Regions from separate parts of the Homo sapiens genome. Here region 1 is linked to region 2. The links come from fine-mapping of genetic effects on gene expression. Tissue or cell type: blood mononuclear cells. Region 2 holds a variant in brackets; the other region holds the start of a gene. All regions are shown on one strand. Distances are between the middles of the regions.

Region 1 (2,630 bases), 170 kb before region 2:
TCAGAAAGCCAGCTCTATCAGAGCGGGGGCGGGGGGGCGGTTTCCCTTCACCAGACTCAGCTGTTGCCTTATCTAAAATGCCTTAGCGATCTAAAACTGAAAGAGAAAGATAAACAAAACAACAAAACGCTCCGGATTTAGATCTCCTTTAGGTAGTTAACACTGTTGCAAAAGCAAAACAAGCACGCAGGCGCGTCGGTCAGGTTGTCACTACAAACATACGTACCTTCTCATCCAATGTAAGGAAGAGGATCTCTGCGAGCTCTGCTGCCTTTTTGTTTGGGCTCTCTAGGTTAATGTAGTGATTGCATTTTAATGACCCACAAACAGGAGCAAAGTTATTACTGGGTCGCTTTGAGAGATGTTTACTTAAATGTGAGGATAAACCCAGGTCGCTGTAGAAAGGGAAAATATTTTCCGTCCAAACGTAGCATTACCCAACTACGAACCCACGCAAAACAATCACAATGACCCATTAATGCGTTTCAACGAGTGAACTAGTTCACTTCCCTAATAACACTGTCAAGGAAAACGCCTTCAACAAAGTCGAGGGAAACCATGCCTTCCACACTGGTGGGACGCAGCTGGTATAACCCATTCTGCCCCTCTTTGAGAGCTGCGGGGCACCCAGAGGCTTTTGGAGAAAACCGGTTTGGGGAAGAGTTTTGGGGTGCTGCTGGGAGCCGGTGTGCTGAGTAAACTTAGAAACGTCAAACTCAACTTTGCTTTATGAAGGAACTCAAAGTTAACTCACCCTGGTACGTCCACCCTCTCCCTGCGCGCAGGGGACAGCGGCCTCTCCTCCCCACCGCGCAGAGTCGCGGCCGCCGCCCTCGACCCACCGGTGACAGCCCTCAAAGCGATGGACCCCCGCACCCGCCCTGCCGCCAACCCCCGGAACGCGCTCCGGGCCGCACCCACCTTGATGCCCTGCTGCTGGGTGGTAAGGGTTAACTTGGATTCATCCAGGAGCAAAACTTCGCAGTAAAATTCTTCCGGAACAGCGCAGAAACAGCCCATGTCGGTTGTGGTCGTCTCCAGCCAGGAGAGAAAGCTACCACCGAGGCGCCCAGCCGCCCCCTCCACTCAAGCGCGATGCATTAATTTATTGTCCGCGCCGTGGCGAGGGTGAGACGAGCAGCTCCCGGCGGGGTCCGGGGACCGGCCGCCGAACCGCCCGGCGGGGCGGGAGCGAGAAAGGCGGAAAAGCCCGGGAGAGTCAGCGCCCGGGAGCCGCCGGGGAAGCGCCGGCGGAACTGGGCGCGGAGGGCGGTGGCGCGTCCCCGCGCATCCTGCGGCTCGAGCTCCTCCGAAGGCGGGGGCGCGGGGCCCCTCCCGCAGTCCTGGGGACGACAAAAGTCTCCTGGCACTGGGGGCAAGAGACCAGAAAAAGGAGTGATGGGAATTCGAGGCTCTCCCCGGCCTTGGAAAACCCTGGAAGCGCTGCACCTCCCTCCTGCCGCACGGATTTGAGCGCGGCCCCGACGTCCTGGCGTCCGATCGGCCTGCGGAGTCCCCCGCGGGCGCGCACTTCCAGCCGCGACCCCGCCCCGCAGCCCCGGGTCAGATCCGCCGAGTATGAAGCGCTCGGCTTTTCTTTTGTGTGAGGAGCACCCACGACGCCCCGACCATGGGCGCAGGGGCAGAGGCGAAGGTCGTCGCTCCGTCCGCTACCCCGTCCCCCAGCCGCAAGCGCCGAGGAGCCGGAAGAGAGGCGGAAAGGGCAGCAGGCTCCTTACCCAGACCAGCGAGGGGAGGTCAGCTCGTCGCGGGGTGTGGCTCCCGTCCGGGGACTCCCGAGCTCATTACGGGTGGCCGTGTGTAGCCAAGTTCAAGCTCTCCCTCCGGGAATGCCTGCCGCGGCGGCGGAATACGGCTTCTTCAGGACATTCAGCAAAGCGGGGAGGCGGGGACCTGCGGGCGGAGGAGCGACGCCCCAGCTGGGAACGCGGCGGACGGGCGAGCGGGGGGTGCGCCCTGGGCGCGCCAGGCCGCAGAGGCTCCGGGGAAAGTTCTCTTGGCCGCGCGAGTGGTGGCGCCCCGGGCGGGAGCAGCCCAGGTGCATGTGGGCCCGGTCCAGGCGTCTGCAAAAAGCCCTGGAACGAAGCGGACCCCCCAGTCCAGCGCTGGCCGCGGCAGGGGAGCCCCTTCTGGGCGGGGTATCAGCTGGGGGCGGAGGGCGGGGCAGAGACCGTGGTCCCAGCGGCGAGGTGCCGGCGAGTCCACGCTGCCAAGCCGCACACTGCGCCCAAGCCGCGGGGCAGTCCAGCGCTCGCTGCGTCCTTCCCCCGAGAGACCTGGAGGCTGGGTGGGGAGAAGAGGACGCGGTGCTGCTCGGACCCCACGGTTCGGCGGTCCCAATCCCACGCCCTCCGCGCGGTCGGCCGCGTCCAGGACTGAGGGGCACAATAGCTCTGAAGCTGCAGTGACCCCTGGTGGGTCCCGATGTCCGTGCACAGGCAGCCGAGGTTGAGCTGCGGACGACACTGAGCCCCGCTGGGCTTCGGAGCAGGTGCAATCTGTGCTCTCCAGCTGGGAACCAGCAGCGAGTTAATGCGAGTCGCAGTTAGGGGAGACACGAGGGGAGGTGTCACAGAAAAAAAACTCTATATTGAGTTTTAGAGTTAGAG
Region 2 (2,765 bases):
TATTAAGGGCAGCCAGAGAGAAAGGTCAGGTTACCCACAAAGAGAAGCCCATCAAACTAACAGCAGATCTCTCTGCAGAAACCCTACAAGACAGAAGAGAGTGGGGGCCAATATTCAACATTCTTAAAGAAAAGAATTTTCAACCCAGAATTTAATATCCAGCCAAACTAAGCTTCATAAGTGAAAGAGAAATAAAATCCTTTACAGACAAGCAAATGCTGATAGATTTTGTCACCACCAGGCCTGCCTTACAAGACCTCCTGAAAGAAGCACTAAACACGGAAAGGAACAACTGGTACCAGCTACTGCAAAAACATACCAAATTGTAAAGACCATCGACACTATGAAGAAACTGCATCAACTAATGGGCAACATAACCAGCTAGCATCATAATGGCAAGATCAAATTCACACATAATAATATTAATCTTAAATGTAAACGGGCTAAATGTCCCAATTAAAAGACACAGACTGGCAAATTAGATAAAGAGTCAAGACCCATTGGTGTGCTGTATTCAGGAGACCCATCTCATGTGCAAAGACACACATAGGCTCAAAATAAAGGGATGAAAAAATATTTACCAAGAAAATGGACAGCAAAAAAAAAGCAAGGGTTTCAATCCTAGTCTCTGACAAAAAAGACTTTAAACCAACAAAGATCAAAAGAAACAAAGAAGGCCATCACATAATGGTAAAGGGATCAACGCAACAAGAAGAGCTAACTATCCTAAATATATATGCACCCAAAGCAGGAGCACCCTGATTCATAAAGCAAGTTCTTAGAGACCTACAAAGAGACTTAGATTCCAACACAATAATAGTGTTAGTAGTGGGGAGTTAACACCCCACTGTCAATATTAGATCAACGAGACAGAAAATTAACAAGGATATCCAGGAATTGAACTCAGCTCTGGACCAAGTGGACCTAATAGACATCTACAGAACTCTCCACCCCGAATCAACAGAATATACATTCTTCTCAGCACTACATTGTGCTTATTCTGAAATGGACCACATAATTGAAAGTAAAACACTCCTCACCAAATGCAAAAGAACGGAAATCATAACAATCTCTCAGACCACAGTGCAATCAAATTAGAACCCAGGATTGAGAAACTCACTCAAAACCACACAACTACATGGAAACTGAACAACCTGCTCCTGAATGACTACTGGGTACATAACGAAATGAAGGCAGAAATAATTAAATTCTTTGAAACCAATGAGAACAAAGACAGAATGTACCAGAATCTCTGGGACACATTTAAAGCAGTGTGTATGGGGAAATTTATAGCACTAAATGCCCACAAGAGAAAACAGG[A/G]AAGATCTAAAGTTGACACCCTAATACCACAATTAAAAGAACTAGAGAAGCAAGAGCAAACACATTCAAAAGCTAGCAGAAGTCAAGAAATAACTAAGATCAGAGCAGAACTGAAGGAGGACGAGACACAAAAAATCCTTCAAAAAATCAATGAATCCAGGACCTGTTTTTTTGAAAAGATCAACAAAATTGATAGACCACTAGTAAGACTAACAAAGAAGAACAGAGAGAAGAATCAAATAGATGCAATAAGAAATGATAAAGGGGATGTCACCACCGATCCCACAGAAATGCAAACTACCATCAGAGAATACTATAAACACCTCTATGCAAATAAAATAAAAAATCTAGAAGAAATGGATAAGTTCCTGGACACATATACCCTCCCAAGACTAAATCAGGAATAAGTTGAATCCCTGAATAGACCAATAACAAGTTCTGAAATTGAGGCAACTATTAATAGCCTACCATCCAAAAAAGTCCAGGACCAGATGGATTCACAGCCGAATTCTACCAGAGGTATAAAAGGAGCTGGTACCATTCCTTCTAAAACTATTCCAAACAATACAAAAAGAGAGAATCTTCCCTAACTGATTTTATGAGGCCAGCATCACCCTGATACCAAAACCTAGCAGAGACACAACAAAAAAAGAAAATTTCAGGCCAATATCCTCAGTAAAATACTGGCAAACCAAATGCAGCAGCACATCTAAAAGCTTATCCACCACACTCAAGTCGGCTTCATCCCTGGGATGCAAGGCTGGTACAACATACGCAAATCAATAAACGCAATCTATCACATAAACAGAACCAATGACAAAAACCACATGAATATCTTAATAGATGCCAAAAGGCCTTTGACAAAATTCAACAGCGCTTCATGCTAAAAACTCTCAATAAACTAGGTATTGATGGAACATATCTCAAAATAATAAGAGCTATTTATGACAAACCCACAGCCAATATCATACTGAATGGGCAAAAGCTGGAAGCTTTCAAAGGTTTTCCCTTTGAAAACCGGCACAAGACAAGGATGCCCTCTCTCACCACTCCTATTCAACACAGTATTGGAAGTTCTGGCCAGGGCAATCAGGCAAGAGAAAGAAATAAAGGGTATTCAATTAGGAAAAGAGGAAGTCAAATTGTCTCTGTTGCAGATGACATGATTGTATATTTAGAAAAGGATATGAACAGACACTTCTCAAAAGAAGACATTTATGTGGCCAAAAAACATATGAAAAAAAGCTCATCATCACTGGTCATCAGAGAAATGCAAATCAAAACCACAATGAGATACCATCTCACACCAGTTAGAATGGTGATCATTAAAAAGTCAGGAAACAACAAATGCTGGAAAGGATGTGGAGAAATAGGAATGCTTTTACATTGTCAGTGGAGTGTAAATTAGTTCAACCATTGTGGAAGACAGTGTGGTGATTCCTCAA

Evidence for each region. PIP is the estimated chance that this variant, and not a neighbour inherited with it, causes the effect.
Region 1: it holds the start of EPB41L4A, and the variant in region 2 is fine-mapped to the expression of EPB41L4A in blood mononuclear cells (TOPMed, PIP 0.93).

What each region holds. Positions count from the first base shown.
Region 1 is chr5:112,418,020-112,420,649 of GRCh38, forward strand. EPB41L4A (erythrocyte membrane protein band 4.1 like 4A) reads right to left here and starts at 1,258. Exons shown (of 23, transcript NM_022140.5): 1 at 922-1,258. The coding sequence starts at 1,020. EPB41L4A-DT (EPB41L4A divergent transcript) reads left to right here and starts at 1,564. Exons shown (of 1, transcript NR_027706.1): 1 at 1,564-2,630. RefSeq lists a silencer at 1,923-2,012.
Region 2 is chr5:112,588,042-112,590,806 of GRCh38, forward strand. No RefSeq gene overlaps it. Among named protein-coding and RNA genes, the nearest start is that of LINC02200, 39 kb to the right of the region's middle. The variant A/G (reference allele first, on the strand shown) is at 1,321.